2 separate regions of the Homo sapiens genome follow, and region 2 is linked to region 1. The links come from fine-mapping of genetic effects on gene expression. Tissue or cell type: whole blood. Region 1 holds a variant in brackets; the other region holds the start of a gene. All regions are shown on one strand. Distances are from middle to middle.

Region 1 (10,727 bases):
TTGGTCTTTGCTTTAAAAGTAATCTGGTAAACAAGGTAACATAGTGCCCAAATTACTATGTTCCTCCACCGAAAAGAACTCTCATTTGACAATAAAGTGCCCTATGACCCAATTATTCTAGTTCTAGATTATATATCCAACAGAAATGTACAAATATATTCACTGAAACACGTGAACCAGAATGCTTCCAATGGCCAAACTGGAACCCACTCAAAAGCCTATCAAAGCAGAACGGATAAATTAACTGGATTATATTCACACAATGGGATACTACATAACACTGAGAATAAACAGTCTACAATGACACATAGTACTATGAATGAGTCTCACAAACGATGTCAAGCAAAAAAAGCCAGACACTTCTTTCTGTATGATTTCATTGACATTAGCCTTGAGGGTAATGGTGACCTCTGGGGGTTGGTAACAGGGAGGGGTGCCAGAGGGCTGTGGGGGCCTGGCAGTGCTTGGTTTCTTGATCCGGGTAGAGGTTACACAGGTGAAAACTTAGTGAGCAGTCTAGTCACTGCTCTGTCACTGACCAGTAGAGAGACCAATTGTCCTGGTTTGCCTGGGACTGTTCCCATGTTAGCACCAAAAGTCCTGTATCCTGGCAGACTGGGACGACTGGTCCCCTGGCCCGACTGTGGGAAGTGGGCAGCCACGTGGGCTTCCTTGGCCCCTGTCACCTCAACGCCACATGAAGATGGAATCCCTGCCATGATCCACTCTTGGGTTTGTTGTGAGCATCAAACAAGGTCCTATGTGAAAATCTGTAGCTGCAGAAGATCCTGATGCCACGGCAGTGGGAAAACCCACTGAAGAATAAACAGTAAGGCAAGTCTCCATGACGGCTGGAGGGGGACCCTGGGACCAAGCGAGACCACAGCGCAGCTGGGGCTGAACAGTGAGAGCTGACCAAGGACTGCTTCTCAAGGGTCTGGTGTTTTTCCCAGGGCCAGAGGTTAGCACTGCCCAGGCCTGGGGCCGCCCTGAAAGGGGCAGGCTGGCCCCGCCCCCTACCCTGCTGTTCCTTACTTATCTAGGGAGCCAGGGAGTCAAGCTCCAGTCCAGCTGCTGTCTTCACTTGTCAGCGCCCCTTCTCCAAGAGGGGGCGGGGCAGGGAAACAGGCAGGGAAATGCACACCTGGCCCGGGGTTTTTCTGCTGATCTGGGGAAGGCTGTGGTGGTGGGGCTAATCCCAGGCAGGAAAGAGGATAACTGTCTGGACTACAATGCCTGTGGTGCAGGTTCCACTGAGGGGACTGTCCTAACAGGCTATAGTGAGTAAAGTTCCTGAGCATGTGAAAAAGTCACATTGCACAAAATTCACACCACTTCTGCTAAAGCTTTTATAACACTGGTTTCTAAACCTGGCTATGCATCAGAATCGCCCAGAACCTTCTCTCACACTGGAGTCTGAAGGCCCCAGGGGTCTAAGAAAGTATTCATAGAGGTCTTCCTCATTTTCTATGAAAATGTTAAATTTTTCCTTTTGTTCTGACAGTAAAAACATTATTGAATGAAAGCATACACATCTGCATCTTTGGGGACACCATCCCATAACTGCATGTGGCCACACAGGTTCAGGGGCTAATGACCGTCCGCACCCTGGGGCTTCAGGGACTAAAGCAGCCAGACCCCACCGACAGAGTGTTCTCAAGCCTTGTTACTCAGAGCGCAGTCGTTGAACCAGCACATTCACAAACCTAGAGCCTGTTAGAAATGTGGCATTCCAGGTCACCCAGACCTGAACAAAAACCCTGCAATGTAAGGAGCCGCCTAGGTGAGTCAGGCATGCTAATGTTTGTGAAGTGCCGGCCTAGATGGCTGGCCTCCCCTCTCCTGCATTATTGTTCATTGAAATGGCTTTGGATTTCCCACCTGATTTTTCAGTTCTAATTACTGTGTTACTTTCTTTTATCTGTTAGTCCCATTGAAGGCTCGATCATCAATAGTGTTTATTAATTCATCCATATACTAGACTCAAAGATGAGGCTAGTAGTTGGGGTCCCCGTGCCTTGGGGATGGAGTGCTATGCCCTGAAGACAATGAGGATGCCCAGAGATTCGCCCCTGGCCTCCTGCCCTCCTTCTTTGTGGACCCACACAAGTGAGGTTTTATTACTTGGTGCCAGCCACATTTCCCACCCTCCTGACCAAAGGCCCCAGGCTGGCCAGCCTTGGGGACAGTGAGCACCCAGAATGGGGATCTTAGCATGTGTAGCTACATGATGCTATAGAATATGCATGCTACTGACTCCCTGGGAGCCCAGGAGCAGGGTGGGCTGCCAGGGATAGGAGGGGAGCCTGCCACCCTCCTGACTCTGGGGGGGGCTCCCCATCATGACAATGGCAGGGCAGCCTGGGGACCCTCCTGTGGAACCCTCAGCCCCCACCCACTGGTCCACCAAGTGGTCCACCAGTCCACCAAGTGCCCCAGGACTCACAGGATGTAGCAGATGACCCCGATGCTCCACATGTCTGTGGCGTAGCCGATGGGCTCATAGTTGATCACTTCAGGAGCCACAAATTCTGGGGTGCCAAAGAGGACCTTCAGAGACCCCGCATTCTCTGAAACCAGGATGGAGAGGGATAAATTGCCAGCACATCACGGAGCCAGCTTGAGACCAGCAGCTGCCCGAATCTGTGTGTTGACCCCAACCTGGGAGGGGCCAGACACAGGCTTTGGCACAGAGAACAGGCACAGAGACATCTGACCTCCTTGTTAAACAGGTGCGTCAACACACCAGTGAAACCAACAAACCTCACACTCACCTCAAATGTCCTGTGCAGGGTGGGCAGGGGGAGAAGAGGCCGCTAAATCACCCGCCCCTGAATGGTCTTTTTGTGAGTCTGTCTCATGAGTTAGTTCCCCTAGGCAGGGACTGTGACTTATGCTTAATAATAATCTCTAGCATTCACTATGTCCTATGTACCCCACCGGCAGCTTTACAAGGGTTCTCACCCACCCCAAGGGGTAGGTATAATGCCCGTGCTACTGAGAACATGAGTGAGGCCCAGGGAAGTGCAGTGATTTCCCCACCCGGTTAACAAGTGGTGGTCGGGACTCAAGCCCAGGTAGTCCAACTCCTGAGCCATGCTTACCACCGTTCCTCCCTCCTGCCTCTCCTACTCCTCACACAGCTTCATGGCTGTCCTTCAGGAGCTACTGGTAGGGTAGTCGGGAGAGGCTTCAACCCCAGGGTGGTACCTCTTGGCCATAAAGGACCAGAGATGTCTGTTAATATGTGCAAAAGGCAGGTACCTGTGGGCTATGCCTGGTCTTGCTTAACTTCGCAGAGCTCACAGCAAATGTTCTAAAACAAAGCATTTAACAGCCCTCAGATGTGAAAGCTCTGCTCCAATTCCTGCCTCTCAGCCCTTTCTGCTACATTTTAGCCACTTCTCAGTTATCTGGTCCTTGGTGGACACGGTTGTTCCCACAGTATCCCTCACCAGTGGAAGCTGGACATTGTGTTCCCTGGGCTCTGACACTGCCGACTCCTGAGGACAGTGGCCTATTTGTTTAATTTATTGGTGGTCACTGTTCAAAGGCAGGCCCTGTATGCCAGCCACTGCCCCTACCCTGTCCTCTTAGCAGGAGTGAGCAGAGCAGAGCAGGCACATGCGCCCAGCGCCGAGGCATGTTTCTCACCTGACTGCGCTGACCACCAGACCGGTCATAGTCTATCGGAACCTCGCCCCTGCTTACCCCTTTCCTCTTTATGACCAACACAGCCTCAGCCAGCACTGAACATCGTGGGAGACATTTATTGGGTGGCATTCATTTGGCCCCTCCTTTCTACTACCTGCAGGGTGGTGAAATAAAGCCAGCTCACCCCAGCCCTCGGGCTCCTTGCTAGCAGGGCAGTGGCTAAGAAGGGAGGATGAAGCTGTTTCCTCAATCACCGGGACATCAAAGGGCTGCAGAGGCAGGCTGGATGCAGGCAGAATGTGAGCCAGGCAGGCATCTACCAAAGTGCTTTCAGGGCGGCCTTGAGACCCTGACCGCCTACCCCTGTGACCTCTCTCCTGGCTAGCATAAGAATCAGAGGTGCTGCAGAGCACCCTGAGCAAGGTCTGGGGTCCTTGTTCCAATCCCAGCACATCCCCTGGCTCACAGTGGGACCTCCTGGGCAAAGCTATTGTGAACCTTTGTTTCCTAGTCTACAAGTTGGGGCTCATAAAATCTACCCTGCTCACCTCATGGTGAGAATCATAGGGTTTATTTTTTATGTGAAAGTGCTCTAGAAACTGTACAGTATGATGCAGATGTGCAGAGCCACCATCACCAAAATGACTTTTGCTGCTAATGGCACCAGAGTGAAAAACAAAAGGGGATAATCATCATCATATATACAGCTAACACCTAAGCAGTCTTACTATGTGCAAAGCACTCTTCCCATCCCTTTACCTATATTAACACATTTGATCCTCCTAACAAATCTGTGAGTTAGGTCCTACTATGATCCCACTTTTCTGATGGGGAATTTGAGGCTTACTGTCACGTCTAGTATGTGGTAGGGGCAGGATTCAAACCTGGGAAGTCTTCATGGTCTCGGATTTAACCCCAATACTGTATGTTTCCTCTCACACTCAGTGTGAGAGGAAACGGCCAGTGCAATACACACTGGTGTCCATGGGAGAGGCAGATGAGCCTTACCCAGCCTCCTGGCCAGACCAAAGTCGATGAGCTTGATCCTGGTGCCCGTCTTGTTGACACACATGATGTTCTCCGGCTTGAGGTCCAGGTGCACGATGCCCTGCTTGTGGATGTACTCCACTCCCTCCGAGATCTGCCGCATGTACTTGATGCACTCACGCTCCGTCAGCTCAAAGTCCTCGTCAATGATGCGCTCAAACAGCTCCCCTCCTGACACGCTGCGGGAACACGTGCACGGGGTGGTCAGGCCACAGGCTCATGGAGGCCAGGCTGGCAGGGAGTCTGGCCAGGGTAGGCTGGGGGTAGGAGAAA[T/C]TGGCAGGAAAGCCCAGGGAATGGGGGTGATGGGCAATTCCTGAATCCCCACCCTCCGACATGGGAGAAGGGTCAGGGCCTCCTGGTTTCCCATCAGGGAACCCTGCCCTGCACCTTCTAAGCTGCTGGGGACTCAGGGAAGCATCTACACTAGGCAGTTTCAGAGGTGGGTGTGAACACAGAGATCCAGACATGATCTTCTTAGCAAAAAGAGTGACCTCTAAACAGTCTCTTTCCCTCAAATGACCACACATGCCTAAGGGAACATTCTTGTACTCTAGCCGTGTCTTTTAGTCACAGGGAACTCAAGTTCAAAATACTCACAGTTCCCACAAGCATTTGTTCTGCATAGCCAGGAACGGAAAAATATCTTCAATCATCAATAATGAGCCTCAGCAAATTTTCTAAAATTAGTTGGCTGTAACTCATTATACCTACAGCTGTGACAGATTTGCTTACTCTGGCCAGGCCTATAGTATTGGTTTACTCCCTGCAGTCATAATTAACTGGTCTCCCTTGGACCCCTTCCTTACCCCAGCTGTGTAATCCTTTCTAACTGGATAGGCTTTGGATCCTGGCTATTTCTAGTGAACTTTGCTTCTGCAGCCACAGGCATGCATCCTCTGCTAGGGACTGCCCCGGGGTCTCAGCCATCAGCATATTGCCCTTCAGTGCAAATGCATGGCCCCACCGCCTGAGTTGCATGAGTCCTCTCTGTTCCCCTGTCCTAGCCCTCTGACCCACCTTTCTTGGTCTCTGCTTAGCAAGTTTAAAGCATCTCTCTGGTAACTTATGCAGCACCCAGATATCAGTAAGCTTGCTTTTCTTTTTTTCTTCTTCAATTTTTTTTTTTTGGTAGAGACAAGGAGTTCAAAGTTATGTTGAGCTATGATCACACAACTGCACTCAAGCCTGGGTGACAGAGCAAGACCCTGTCTCAAAAGTGAAAGAAAGGAAAGGAAGGAGGAGGGGAGGGGAGCCCAAGCTGGTCTGGAACTCCTGGTCTCCAGCGATTATCCCACCTCAGCCTCCCAAAGTGCTGGGATTACAGGCATAAGCCATCATGCCTGGCCTATAACCAACCAACCTACCTATCTTCCTTCCTTCCTTCCTTCCGTCCTTCCTTCTGTCCTGCCTGCCTTCCTCCCTCCGTCCCTCTCTTCCCTCCCTCCCTCTCTTCCCTCCCTCCCTTCCTCCCTTCCCTCCCTTGCCTCCCTCCTTTCCTCCTTCTCCCCTCCCCTCCCCTCCTCCTTCCTTTCCTTTCTTTCGCTTTTGAGACAGGGTCTTGCTCTGTCTTCCAGGCTTGAATGCAGTTCTGTGATCATAGTTCAACATAACTTTGAACTCCTGGGCTCAAGCGATCCTCTTGCCTCAGCCTCCCAAGTAGCTAGGACTACAGGTATGTGCCACCGCACCTGGCTAATTTTTTTAATGTTTTGTAGAGACAGGGTCTCTCTCTGTCACCCAGTCATAAGCTCATGTTTCTGCAGTGGCCTGTAGGTCCACCAGTTGAACAAGGCCGGGTGGGTTCTGGGCCTGTCCTCTTGCAAGGGTATTTCCTCTCCTACAGAGAGTCCTCACGAAGAGGAAAGGAGCTGAGTTTGAATCCTGCTTCTGCCTTTTATGAGCTGTGTGACATTGGGCAAGTTGCTTAACCTTTCTGAGTCCCAGTTTCCTTATCTATCCCTGCCTCATAGAGTTTTTAGGAATGTAGGAGGCTTTGTAAAGTATCATGCCTAACACACAGAAGGTGCTCAACACTTATTACTTATCGTTTGATAAGCTGTGGTGGGCTAGGTGGATCTTGTCACTGACCCCTGCAGGAGAGAGACAGGGATGCACTGTGGGGCCCAGCATACCACAGCCTCTGCCACGTGACACACACACTCACTTCTGGAAGGGCTGAACTGGAGAAGGTCAGTCTGTGCCAGTGACAGCTGGAGGGAGCTAGAACTCATACTTTAAAACCCATCTGAGAAGAAGGTCCCCAAATGGCCTGCAGGTGGCGCTCTTGTCCTTATGCCCTCCATTTCTATTGCTCTCTGCCAAGGCTCCAAGACAAACTCTCATCTACAAGTATTCTTAGGTCTCAGCCAGTTATTAACATCTCTGTGCTTCATTTTCCTCATCTGTAAGATGCAGATTAAAAACAGCCTCACCTCACAGGGTGGCTTCAAAGACTAAATGAGTCAACACAGGTAAAGTGCTTGGAAGTGTCTGGCACACAGTCAATGCTCAATATTAATGATCAATTTTCTATGTAAAGAATCACTTGGGGCTCTTATTAAAAATACAAATTCCCAAGCTCCTCCTCTGGAGATTTTGATTTAGAAAGTCTTGGGAGAGATCTGAGGATCTATATTTGTAATAATTACTCCAGGTCATCCTTATGATCAGACAAGTTTGAGAAATACTGGCTTACTCAACTACCACTCCTGGGAGGCCAGCTGAAATTCACGCCCTCTGAAAAAGTCACTCCCCATTTCTTCACATGGAATGATCTTTCCCTCACTGGGCATCCATGGCCTTATGTCCATAGCCTTGTCTCTGCACTTTCCATGGCCTTATGTCCATGGCCTCGTCTCCGCACTTTGTGTATCAAGTTGGCTTTGCCTTGAAGTTCTGAACACATCACAGGTGGCAGGCTCATCTCTAGACCCTTATTTGCCTCCGACTATATTTGGCACAGACAAGGTGCTCCAAAATGTTTACATTTAAATTTTAAATATTCTGAAAAAGCAAGCAACCATTGTTTTCAATGCCCTTGGGAATGTCTGAGGCAGTGAGTGGTGGGAATCTGAGCCATGGAGATAATTCCTGCTGCATTTCTGGAGGAAACCTATTCAATATAAATTCAAATAGGTTCAATCCTATTCAGATATACTTATTATATTTTGAAAACTGTTCCTATGGTTCAACTTTCTAAGATGGAAGGGGTTAAAGAGGCAGGATTAATGGTTCTGTGGGTTTATCTTCAAAATACTTAATGCTATGGGTGGAAAATATTGGTTTGATAGACAGAAACTGCCACCCACAGTAATGGGATAATGCCAAGGGCCAAGATTAGGCTTAAATTAATGGTGAGTGAGTGAATGACTAAATAAATAAGTGATCCCTATCCTAAGGAATCAGATTCATCCCCCAAACCCTAGACCTTGGCTAGCTCTCATAGGAAGCAAGAAGGAATGGTGCTATCACTGGACTCGAGACCCTCCGCTCCTTGCCCTATGGCAGCCAGCTGGAACGTTCTTTGATAAATTTTGCTAATAGTAGCACAAACATGAGATGAGCCATGGATGACACAGCTTAAACTTCACATTGTCTTCAATGCTCAGGGTCCCACAACCACCTGGAATGTCCCAAGCACTTCCAAAAGGACAAGCCCAAGTAGGCCAGGGGCCTGAAGGAACTGCTGTGTCAGACCAACTACTATATGGTGGGGGCTCATCCAGTAATCAGAAGTCAGAAAGGATGAAGACACATTCATTACTATTTCCCACTAGATCTGAAGCAACTGGACTTAAGGCAGGGACCCTGGAATACATTTCCATTATTCTATCCCCAGGCATCATCCTTCTTTTAATCTCAGTTTCTCCATCCAACAAGGTTAGCACATTGCACTGGTGAAAATCATTCTTTCCCTTCTCAGTGGTCAAGTCTTAGAGTGTTTAAGCTGGAAGGGATGTATAGATGGAGTATGAACCTGTTCCCTTCTTCTTTGGTTGACTGAGTTCTTACCAAGTTCCTACTCTTGGCGACCTGGCCAAGGTCCCAAGTGCAGGCAAATTTTCTGGTATCTGGGCATGGAAGACCTGCTGCTGTCCACAGGGGAGGCATGGGGTGGAGGGATGAAAGCCAGACTAGCTGAAGCTTTCTTACATTTTCTCTTTGCTTTTTCCATCCAGCTTGCCAACTCCCAATTCCAAGCTAAGTATGGTATTCTGCCCACTGGTGCTGCTGCCTAGCCTTCCCCAGGCCCTGTGACTCCTGCCCTCCCTGCACCCTCTCAACTTGCTCAAGGTTTAACTTCTAAAGATAAGACATTTCTCCACATGTCCTCACATGCCCACACCGCCTGGACTAAGCAACCTGTTCTAGAATAAATGTGAAAAGATGCAGCCCACGGGGCTATTGTGAGGGTGTAAAGAATGAGGTCACAGATGTGGGCTACGTATTTCCTGAAAATGGGGAGGAACATTTGAATTTGGGGCTGAATGTAGATTGTAAGATACGAATGGAAATTCTTCACCGCGTCTTTTATGGTTCCATGAAATAGTAGAATTTTATAACCAAAAGGGGCATCTTGAGATTGACTGTTCTAATCCAAGTACTTCTTCGTGCTGATAGGATTTGACAATTGCAAAATCATGACTCAATAGTAGCAGAAACTGAAGCCAGGCTTCCTGAATACTAGGGAGGATTTGTTCCACAACACCTTGTTGGAAGTTAAATGCTCAAAAAGTATTTTTAAGTGGAAAAAAACCAGGATACAAAAAAAGTCAATGTATCATACTACTAACAATAACTCCCCATTATAGAGCACTGTGCCCTATATGCATTATTGCATTGAATCCCACAGCGTTCATGAGGTGGGTGTCGTATCTACATTTATGGATAATAAAACTAGGGATTGGTACAATAGAATAACTTACTCAAGGTCAAATAACAAGTTAGAAGCAGAGCTGGGATTTGAAGTAAGGTTCATCTGACTCAAGCCTACACTCGGAACTACTATTGCCTTTCCTAAGGAACACATACGGAAAGGAAATACTTGTGTGCCAGAATGTTAATGGCATGAGGGGAGAGAAAAGACTAATATTCCACTCATATCTACAGCTTGGGGATGTCTTACTGGACTCAACTTTCCTGGGAGAGAATTCCAAGATGCTAACAGAGCCCTCACCAAAGGACAGAGACCCCCCAAGTTCAGGATGAGCATTTCAAGGATGTTGAAAGCAATTTCACAATATCTCTAAAGATTTCAAATGTGCATACCCTTTAACCCAGCTCTCCTTCACTTCTGGGAGTTTATCCTATAGATATTCACAGGCATGAGTGAAAAGATGTGTGTACAAGGTTACAAACGATGCTTGTTTGTAAAAGCAAAAGGCTGGAAACCACTCAATCTCTATCAAAAGAAGGCTGCTTAAATGAATTGTGATTTTCTATACAACAAAACCCCACAGAGCTGTGAGAATGAGGAAGCTCACTAGGTAGTGAGATGGGACTAACTCCCATAGCAATTTGCTGAAAAAGCAAAGTAGGTTGGGTGCGGTGGCTCACGCCTGTAATCCCAGCACTTTGGGAGGCTGAGGCAGATGGATCGCTTGAGCCCAGGAGTTCGAGACCAGCCTGGGCAACATGGTGAAATCCTATCTGTACAAAAATACAAAAATTAGCTGGGTGAGGTGGCGTGAGCCTGTGGTGAGGTGGGAGGATCGCTTGAACCTGGGAGGCGGAGGTTGCAATAAGCCGAGATGGCACCACTGCCCTCCAGCCTCGGCGACAGAGTGAGACTCTGTCTCAAACAACAACAACAACAAACAAACCAAACTAAAAAAGCAAAGTATATGACAGTGAGTATAAGAAGTTACTTTTTGTGTTAAAAGGCAAGAAAATAAGAATATATATATGTGTGTGTGTGTCTGTATACACTTATATTTTCATAAAGAAACTTTGGAAGGATACAGATAAAAGCCAATAAAATTGTTTGTGTTGGTGATGGTTGTAGTGTTTAGGAAAGGATAGACAGG
Region 2 (10,727 bases), 55 kb before region 1:
AAGGCTGCAGTGAGCCACGGCCATGATGGCACCACTGCACTCCAGCCTGGGCGACAGAACAAGACCCTGTCTCAAGAAAAAAAAAAAAATTGAGAATGAAAGGTAGAGGTATCACACTTCATTTCATGAGATAAAGAATTTTTTTTTTTTTTTTTTTTGAGACAGAGTCTCGTTCTGTTGCCCAGGCTGGAGTACAGTGGCGTGATCTCAGCTCACTGCAACCTTGCCTCCCAGTAGCTGGGACCACACGCCCGTGCCACCACACCCGGCTAATTTTTGTATTTTTAGTAGAGACGGGGTTTCACTGTGTTAGCCAGGACGGTCTCAATCTCCTGACCTCGTGATCCACCCGCCTCGGCCTCCCAGAGTGCTGGGATTACAGGCGTGAGCCACCGTGCCCAGCGAGATAAATGATTTTTTCTTAAGTATCATTCCATAGTTCAGGTTTTAAAAGTTGCCAGTAAAGTATAAATGTTATGATGGTCTTGCCTGGAGGCTAAGCAAAATGAACCAGATCTTCCCTGCAATCTGAAGGTTTTTCACCATAATGAAATATACGAACTATGGCGGCTATTGATTTTGTGTGCCCAAAGCTATCCCCATCCCTCTTTTCCATAAGCAAAGTCTATAGTCCCTTGGACAGAAGAATGGGCATGTGTCCTAAGATTGGCTAATCAAGCACCTCACATCACTGGCATAGTCTAAGTAGGGCCAACCAGAATCCTCTCTGGGAACTGTGTGACACAGATGCTGCGAAAAATAAACACCCTCCCTGTTTCCCACCATGTGGAGAGCCCAAGACCAACATTCAAAGAGAAACAGACAAGCAGAAATGAGAGAAAGCAAGAGAATCTGGCAGTGTCAGCTCCTTGGTTCTCATTCCTGAGCTAGTTTCTTTGTAAATTAATCCTGTATCTGTATCAACTACAGAGGCCAGAAAATTCCTTTTTTGCTTAAAATAGTTTGAATTGGGTTTTTGTCCCTTGCAATTCCAAAATCCTAATCTATACTTACCCCAAGAGAGAGGGCTGGATATACATTGCCCTTAATGCAGGGAAATCAATACATTTTTGTTAAATTTTTAAAATTTGGACGCCTCTAGACAGGCTCTCTATTATGTCTTCTATCTATCACTTCCAATATCCTACACCCACCAACTTCACTATTTCTATTACATAAACCCTGAAAGCATCTGATTTTGCCAGTGCTTCCCCAGGATGTCCCTAGAATTTTTAAAAATCCTAATATAAGCTTGCTTCAGTTGATTTCCCAAAAAAGTCGAATATAAAATACATTCAAGGTAACCTAAGTTAAATGAGATTCTACCCAATCTAGAACATCAAAAAGCCTAGGTATCAACACTTTAGTATGTGAGGAGGCAAAATTTCAAAATTTAACATGAATCCAAAGGGGGTATGCTACTTCAATATAATTTAGTTGCATGTTTTTCTTCATACCAATGGAAATCAATAACAACAATAAATCTCAGGACCTACCTCCAATAAGGCTCCAGTTTGAAAGAATTTCAAAGGCTTTTCAATTGAATAATAAAGGCTATGGTAGCTACCCTTAGCCAGGTATGCTCGGACCAGACCAACCGCTATAACCAGCCACCTAGTAAAAGAGAAAACAGCAATCAGGAAAAAATAAAAATAAAAAAAGTAGCATTTAGGTTAACACACAGCTGTGGCAATAAAAGATATTGCTAAAGGTGACCTCAAGCATGAGTAACCTGGATTTATGGACGATAGCTCTCAAATGCCAAGCTGTAATGCACTGAAATGTTGCAACACCGACAGCACCTTACCAAGAGGGCTCAGTGAAAGCATAGTGGCACCTCACCCATCTGGAGCTCATTTTTTTGGCAACTTTGCTATTGAGATCAAGGCCAAAAGGAAAGGAATAAGCTAAAATGGTCCTTGTGCCACTAAATCAGGTGCCAAGAAAATCTAAGACGAGAAAAAAACAGTTAAAGGAAAATTTTAAACAGCCTGTGCAGTTAAAGGGTTTTTAATAATTACAGGGTGGAAAGAAGATGCTTTAAACTATTGTTATAATTGTCTCACTGGAACAATTACCCATACCTTAAAATCTATCCTTTTAAAATTACGAATAAAGGGCTCTTGCTAAAAAAAAAAAGTTTTTTAGCCAAATTTCCTAAAATCAATGCAGAAATGAAAGCCAGATCAATACAAACCACGAAACAGGAAAGCACTTAAGCATACAGCTGTGAATGTTATATTTTTGTTCCACTGTCCTTCTCAAAAATAAACACAATGTTTTGTTAAGTTCCATAATAAAACAAATGGACCTTTTTATTAAGGTATGTCTCCTGGAAGGATTTAGATAAATGTATAGTATCAACTAGGCAATGGGGTGTGTGTGGTCTATGCTATTTCCAAAAACTATCACATAAGGACATCAAGTAAGAGTTTGTAAAAGAAGAAATTATTTAATGGTGTAACTGGTACAACCATTAACAGCCTTAAAAAAAAAGCTTACTTTGCTCTCACAATCCCAATTTATCTTCCTGGTTTAAGATACCACTCCTTACCCTCCACCCCATTCTCTATGTTCATTGCTCAGGAATAGACTTCTTTCTTCTTACCAATGTACCTCAAAATCCCTCTCCAGTCCAATGCCCTCACCGGCTCTTGCTAAGACAACAAGAATTTTATATATAAATATTAATACACACAGTGAGATTCCTGGATGTTTTTTTAAAAATCAATCTATGTGACCACTGATGTGATATAAAGCTTGTATCTGTACTAGTTCTTCATTGACCTGTGAGTCAAGAGAAATGATTTCTAGATCTGGAACTTCTACTAACAAGTTCTATGATCTCATGCAAGTCACAACTTCTCTGAGCCTAGGTTCCAACACCTACCATTTCTAATACTAGCAATACATATATGATCCTCCCACGATATATTTTCTTCTTCGTGAAAAAAAAGCAAGGTGCTGAACTGTAAAAATATTAATATATTGGCATTTGTCTTATTTTAAAAAGGGATAGGGGGATGTATAAACATATTTGCTTGCATCAGCATCTTAAGGATACACAAAATTAACTGCCTCGAGGGAGGGGAGCTGGGTAGAAGGGAAAGGTGGGAGGAAAGATTTTCACTGTATTCCCTCATGTTTTTCATTTTTAACCCTAACAATGTATCACCTACTTTAAATAAAAATGGATGTTCACTATACAATTCTTTCAACTCTTCTGTATGTTTGAAATTTTTCATAATAAAATGTTAGGACTTCTTAAAAAATTACAAATGAAGATAACTTAAAAATATATAACTGTCTGATGCTGTGATCCTCCTCACCAAAATGACAAGATAAAGAATTGCAGAGCTGAAGGAACCTTCATCACCCAGACCAACCCTTTAGTTTTACAAATGAAAAAACGGAGGCTAGAGAAATAAGATGATTTATCCAAAGTCACACAGCTAGTTAGTGGCAGAGCTTGAACTAAAAACCCGCCGGGATAAGGGATGCACTGAAATGAAAGAGACAGAAGATGGGTAAAACCGTTTCGAGGGTCCATTCTCCCCCTTTCCAGTAACTCTGCCTTCTACTCCCCAGTTTCTTCCCCACCCCAACCCATCCTAAAAGTCTAAACTCATCTAAAGCCTAGCTCTGCTCATGTCGCTGGCCAAAAACTTTGAACGCTTTCCCAATACCTTTCAGATTAAAGCGCAGCCCAGATTTTGAAAACAGCCGCCCAAATGAATGGTCACTCTGCAGCCACAGCTCCTCCACTCCCCATGCTGGCGCCGTTCAACATCCGAATCTGGCCGCCCAGGACGGGCTCCGCGCCGCAGGTAGTCCGGCCGCTGCCCCCGGCCCCGCACCTGTGGCCAGCCCCACCTTTCCTCCCGCGGCCCTCGCGAGCCAGCGCCCGGCAGCCGTCCCCGCGCCCCAGTGCCTGGGAACTTGGCTCGACCCCCAGCGCAGGAGGGAGCTCGCGGGCAGCCACCGGGGCCGATTCAGCGCTCGGCCGCCCTCAGCGCCCAGGTACCGGGTCCCGGGCACCCCCCGCCGGGAATGCACTGCCTGCGGCGGGCCGCGCCGATCCTATCCGCCCCGCCGCTGGCCGCAGGGCTCCCTCCCCGGCCGCGCTGGCTCCCCGCCTCCCCGAGCCCCAGCCTCACCCGGCTGTCATCACCACATTGTAGATGACCAGGTACGCCGTGGCCAGGGGCCCCGGGCCCTTCTTCTTCCGCGTGCCGCTGGCGTCCCCGGCCCCGGCCCTGCCACCGCCGCCCCCATTCCCCTTCGCTGCTGCAGTCGCCGCCACTGCCGCCATGTCAAGTGCCCGAAGCCCGCTCTCCTAGCGCGAGCGGCTCGGGCCGGACTACGCGAGGAGAGGGGGCGGAGGAAGGGACGAGGGGCAGGCGGGGCCAGGGCCGCGGGGCGGAGCCGGGACAGGGTCCACGGCAGCCGCCATCTTGGCTGAGGGCAAAGACGCTCCTGGCGCTCCCGTCTTTCGGCTTGCCTCAGTTGCCACTGCCATCTTGGATCAGGGTAATTCCCGCCTCTTGGGCGCTCCCGGTTACAACCTCGGCGCCATCTTGGATTAGTTCAATGTAGCCACCCTCTCCAGGCCCGCTGCTTCTGCCAGCTGGATGTTGCGTCGTCCCTCGCTATTCGCCCTCCTATAATCACTGCTTCCATGTTGAATCAAAACAATTATGCTTTCGTTCTCCCTTCTTCAATTGCCCTATCTTCACACCTGAACACTATTGCTCCGGTATCCTGCCATTTTGGATCAGGGCGGTTGACGGTGGATTCACTTCCCATCAGCCCTTGAGGCTGCAGGGACCAGCCCTTTGGTAGGTGCGCTTTGCTTCCTAACCCGTTGCCGGGTTGGAGATTCCACCTCCGAAGTTTTCTTTCTGACTTTTGATTTTACATTCCTAGTACAGTGGAGAAGCCCAGGCGGCCTAGAATCCAGTGTCGTCCGTGAGTGCTTGGCTGGTGTTCAAGTGCATCTTCCAGCCTGAGACCGCGTGGACTCGCTCATCGTGAGGGCGAGAGGAGGATAAGCCCATTGGGCTGTCGGCTGAGAGTGAGGTGCGGGGTAAGGGAGTAGATTTATAGCTATAGTGACTAAAAATAAAAGGATGTTGGCTTAGGTGGAAAACCTCTCTGCTTTGGGAAGCTGGAGCAGCTTGTGGGCATTGCTTCAACCAGCTGATCCCACTTTCCATTCATTGCTTTGTTTCAGGAGGTTCTTTATTTGTAAACGTCCCCTGCAATTTTTTACACACCCAAGCAGCTCCTTAAATGTATTACTGTATATGTGGTAGTATAAAATATTTATGGGTTCATTCCAGCAAGTGTTTATGGAGCGTCCACAAAGTTGCCCTGGAGTTCATGGCACTAAGTGAAAGAGACAAAGTCGTCAGTCTCCCAGGGATTATATAGAGCAGCGGCCCCCAACCTTTTGGTCAACAGGGACCGGTTTCGTGGTGGGGGGGTGGATGATGGTTTCAGGATGATTCAAAGGCATTACATTTATCATTAGATTCTCATAAGGAGCACACAACTTAGATCCCTCCAATGCGCAGTTCACAATAGGTTCCCCGCTCCTATGAGAATCTGATGCCACCGCTGATCTGAGGGAGGCGGAGCTCAGGAGGTAATGCTCCCTTGCTTGCTGCTCACCTCCTGCTGTGCCTCCTGGTTCCTAACAGGCCAGGGATTGGTTCTATCCGCAGCCTGGGGCTTAAGGACCCCTGAGGGAACCAGACGAAAATGCTCGTATTAGTTGGTGAAAAGTGGTATCAGGAAGTTATTACAATAATCCAGCCATGGTGATAGTGGTGTGGGCCAGAGTGGTGGAAATCGAGGTGATGAAAACAACAATGAATTCTGTGCGTATTTTAGAAGTAGAATTATAAGATTTGTGGATATGTTAGTTTTGGAGTGTGAGGTCAAAGGCGTTTTGAGCAACTTGTAAGAAACCATTTTTAAGGCGGAAGTCGGGAATTTTGTTTTTTATATGTTGAATTTGAAATCCTTATTAAACATCCAAGTGGAGAGGCTGGATAGACAATTAAATTTAGACCCTGAGGTTCGGGAAGGAAGTCCAATGGGCTAGAGATATAAATTTGAGAGTTGTCAACCTAAAATAATAAAAAAGGTAAGAATCTAGTTTAAAGGAAGTTTATTCAAGCATAAAGGTTGAAGATGGCTACCTGGGAGCATAGATTCAAGTTACCCTAAATATACACTCTGATTAGCAGCGGTTATGAGTGGGTTTTTAAAGGAAAAAGAGGCAGCTTCTAAGTTGTTTACTAAGAATTTACATTAAAATTACATTAGCTATTGATTGGCTATAAACTATTCTTTGTATCACAGATTCCAGGAACATGAAGATAATGGGTGAGGCTGCTAGTCAGGAACAAAATGTCTAAACAGTTGCCCCCAGGCAAACTCTTGTCTCTGGGCCTGATAAATTTTTGCATACTTCACATAGCTCAGACAGCTCAGAGCTGTTTGAGGTATTATCTTTTCTCAGAGTTCTGAGGGTGGTGGTGGTATTTAAATCCATGACACTGTAATCACCCAATACGTTCTTCCTTCCCACTGCACAGACAAAATCAATTCATAGAGACCATGGCATTGCAATAAAGAATTTAATTGACATGAGATAGGTCTTGGAGATGGAGTTATTACTCCAAATCTCCCCCAAAATTCAGAGGGTAGGGTTTTTCAAGAATAGTTTGGCTAAGATCTGAGAGCTATAGTCAAAACAAAACAAAACAAAACACCCACCCCCCCCCCAACACACACACAGTTTGGCAGGCAGGAGGCTGGAGGAATGGGTGCTGCTGATTGGTTGGGAATGCAATTATAGGGGTGTGGAAAATGGTCCCCCTGCACTGAGCCTGCTTCTGGGTGGAGGCCACAGGACTGGTTGAGCCAAGAGTCAAAGGTCTCAGTGGGGTCGTCAGCCATCCGAAATGCAGAAGCCTGAAAGTTTATCTCAAAAGGCCAATCTTAGGTTCTACAGTAGTGAACTGGGGAAGCTGCAAATCTAGTGACCTCTGGAATAGTGGCTGGTAATCATTTAACTTAACAAAGCCTATGTCTTAGCAGAATTCAAGCTCCTCTTATCCTTCTAACCTGGTGGCTTTTCATTAGTTTTACAAAAGTGGTTTAGTTTTGGGGAGGGGCTATTATCGCTTAAACTGTAAACTAAGTTTCTCCCAAAGTTAGCTTGGTGCAAGCCCAGGAATGACCAAGGGCAGTTTTGGAGGTTAAAGATGAGAAAGGAAAACCCCAGATTCACTGAGCCAAAGGGAAAAGTCAAGCTGGGAACTGGGTCACACAAACCTGCCTCCCATTTGGTTCCTAAATAAGATAGCTACAAAGATAAAAGCTATATACTTCCCTCACATTTTACCCACAAGGAAATTCCTTTTAGGCCCAAAGATCTTTACTCTAAAACAGTTCTGTTGAATTTCAACCTGGCAATGTAAGTTGATATCTTCACAGGTATGGGACATAGGACAGAATTCAAAGTCTTCCCTCTCCTCACCTGAGACAAATGCATATCTGATTGCTTCCTCTGCCCTATTGTCTACGTTATCTTATGTAAAAATACAGATTAACTGAGCCAGACTAAGGCATGAATATTTCCTCCACTCCCCACTCACATGAAAATTGTGTATTCAAAAGGATGCAACTGTTTTATCTTTTTATCTACTGACACAATTTAAAAATATTTCTTGGCTGGGCGTGGTGGCTCACGCCTGTAATCCCAGCACTTTGGGAGGCCAGGCAGGCAGATCAGGAGGTCAGGAGTTTGAGACCAGCCTGGCCAGTATGGTGAAACCCCATCTTTACTAAAAATACAAAAATTAGCTGGGTGTGGTGGTGCGCGCCTGTAGTCCCAGCTACTTGGGAGACTGAGGCAAGAGAATCGCTTGGAGTTGGAGGTTGCAGTGAGCCGAGATTGCGCCGCTGCACTCCAGCCTGGTGACAGAGCGAGACTCTGTCTCAAAAAAAAAAAAAAATTTCTCTTCCCCCAGTATCCACCCTTTCCCCTTTAAGTACTGAAGCCCTCAAAATCATCTTTGGAGATAGGCATATACCTGCCTCCCTGGCATGCATCCTTTACTATGGCAAATAAACCTCCTAAAATGATTGAGACTTGCCTTGATCGTGTTCTTTGATTTACAGAGTCAAGGTGGGGGCTGGTTAGATCAGATCTCTCTCAGTCATAATTTTCTCACTGTTACAATTTTTGCAAAAGAAGTTTCAAGACCTCAAGAGATGAAGTGAGAGGCATAAGTTGACAATTGTCAGGGTCCCATCCTTTCCCGCCATGGCAGATTGTTCAGAGATTCTGTTGCCTTGTTTTCCTGAAATTTTTTTTTTTTGGAGACGAAGTCTTGCTCTTGTCCCCCAGACTGGAGTGCAATGGCACACTCTTGGCTCACTGCAACCTCCGCCTCCCAGGTTCAAGCAATTCTCCTGCCTCAGCCTTCCAAGTAGCTGGGATTACAGGTGCCTGCCCCCACGCCCAGCTAATTTTTGTATGTTTAGTAGAGACGGGATTTTGCCATGTTGGCCAGGCTGGTTTCGAACTCGTGACCTCAGGTGATCCACCTGCCTCGGCCTCCCAAAATGCTGGGATTATAGGCATGAACCACCACACCCGACCTTCCTGAATTTTTCAAAGAGCAAGTTGGTGAGCCCAAATTGCACACTGTGATCAGAGGGCAAAAAAATTTCTTTGCAAAAGAAATAAAGAAGTGAACCATTTTACAAAACCAAATAATCATTCATCTAAAAGCTTCTTTCATTCATTTGACTGATTTTTTTTTCAATATAATCTACTTAATGGGAAAGTAGGAGGAGGCAGGAATGCATAAAGTTCTGTTCAGTTGGAAATCAGTTTAAAACTCAATGTATCTTCTTGCAGTCACTTAGGCCCAACTCCAGTCTGTTGTTTATAGCAGCAATCTCCAACCTTTTTGGCACCAGGGACTGGTTTCATGGAAGACAATTTTTCCATGGACTGGGGAGGGAATGGTTTCAGGATGAAACTGTTTCACTTCAGATCAGCAGGCATTAGATGGAGCCTGCAACCTAGATCCCTCGCCTGCATGGTTCATGATAGGGCTCGTGTTCCTATGAGAATCTAATGCCGCTGTTGGTCTGGCAGGAGGTGGAGATCAGGTGGTAATGCTCACTTGCCTGCTGCTCACCTCCTGCTGTGTGGCTGGGTTCCTAACAGGCCATGGACCTGTACCAGTCTGTGGCCCAGAGGTTGGGGACCCCTGCTCTACAGTACAGCCAAAGTGATCTTTTCCACATACAACCTTGTTCGTGTCTACTACCTTCCTCTGCCCCACCCCTGAAGATATTTAAATGGCTTTTGATGACACTTAGGATAAAGCATAAAATATTTAATATGGTATACAAAAATCTGCATAGACTAGACCCTACCTGCCTCCTCAGTCTCACCATGCCCCTCCTAGTCATACTGGCCTCATCTTAGGTCTTCCATCGAGCAGTACTCCTTTTTTGCCTCAGGGAATTTGCACATGCTATTCCAATCATACCTTCCCAACAGTACCCCAAAGTCTTAACTCATTTCAGCATTAACTCAAAAGTCCAAGTTCAAAGTCTGATCTGAGACAAGGCAAGTCTCTTTCACCTACAAGCCTGTAAAATCAAAAACAAGTTAGTTACTTCCAAGATACAATGGGGGTACAGGCATTGGGTAAATGTTCTCATTCCACATGGGAGAAATTGGCCAAAACAAAGGGGCCACAGGCCCCATGCAAGTCTGAAACCTGGTTGGGCAGTCATTAAATATTAAACCTCTTAAATACTCTCCTTTGACTCCATGTCTCACATCCAGTGCATGCTGATTGAAGAGGTGAGCTCCTAAGGCTTTGGGCAGCTCTTGCCATGTGGCTCTGCAGGGTACAGTCCCAAAGGCTGCTTTCATGGGCTGGAGTTGAGTGCCTGAAGCTTTTCCAGGTCCAGGGTGCAAGCTGTTGGTGGATCTACCATTCTGGGGTCTGGAGGACAGTGGCCCTATTCTCAGATCCACTAGGTATTGCCCCAGTGGGGACTCTGTGTGGATGCTCCAACCCCACATTTCCCTTTTGCACTGCACTAGTAGGGGTTCTCCATGAGGGCTCCGCCCATGCAGCAGACTTCTGACTGGACATCCAGTCATTTCCATACATCCTCTGAAATCTAGGCATAGGTTTCTAAACCTCAACTCTTGGCTTCTGCACACTTGCAGGCCCAACACCACATAAAAGCTGCCAGGGCTTGGGGCTTGTACCCTCTGAAGCAATGGCCCAAGCTGTACCTTGGCCCCTTTTAGCCATGAGGTGGAGTGGCTGGGACACAGGGCACCATGTCTTGAGGCTGCACACAGCAGTAGAGCCCTGGGCCTGCCTAGCCCAGGAAACTATTTTTCCCTCCTAGGCCTCTAGGTCTGTGATGGGAGGGGCTGTCCTGAAGATCTCTGAAATTCCCTGGAGACATTTTTCCCCATTGTCTCAGCTATTAACATTCAGCTCCTTGTTACTTGTGCAAATTCCTGCAGCCTGCTTGAATATCTCCCTGGAAAATGGGTCTTTGTTTTCTACTGCATGGTCAGGCTGCAAATTTTCCAAACTTTTATGCTCTGCTTCCCTTTTAAACATAAGTTCCAATTTCAGATCATCTCCTTGTGAACGCATGTG

Evidence for each region.
Region 2: it holds the start of MYLK-AS1, and the variant in region 1 is fine-mapped to the expression of MYLK-AS1 in whole blood (TOPMed, PIP above 0.99).

What each region holds. Positions count from the first base shown.
Region 1 is chr3:123,635,625-123,646,351 of GRCh38, forward strand. MYLK (myosin light chain kinase) reads right to left here. Exons shown (of 34, transcript NM_053025.4): 28 at 4,663-4,880; 29 at 2,447-2,570. Among named protein-coding and RNA genes, the nearest start is that of MYLK-AS2, 49 kb to the right of the region's middle. RefSeq lists an enhancer at 323-984. The variant T/C (reference allele first, on the strand shown) is at 4,975.
Region 2 is chr3:123,580,716-123,591,442 of GRCh38, forward strand. It overlaps MYLK-AS1 (MYLK antisense RNA 1), which reads left to right and starts at 4,798. Exons shown (of 4, transcript NR_121654.1): 1 at 4,798-4,838; 2 at 4,932-5,086. HACD2 (3-hydroxyacyl-CoA dehydratase 2) reads right to left here and starts at 4,338. Exons shown (of 7, transcript NM_198402.5): 1 at 4,158-4,338; 2 at 1,497-1,614. The coding sequence starts at 4,312. RefSeq lists silencers at 3,663-3,842, 3,853-4,462, 10,113-10,313 and an enhancer at 4,523-4,822.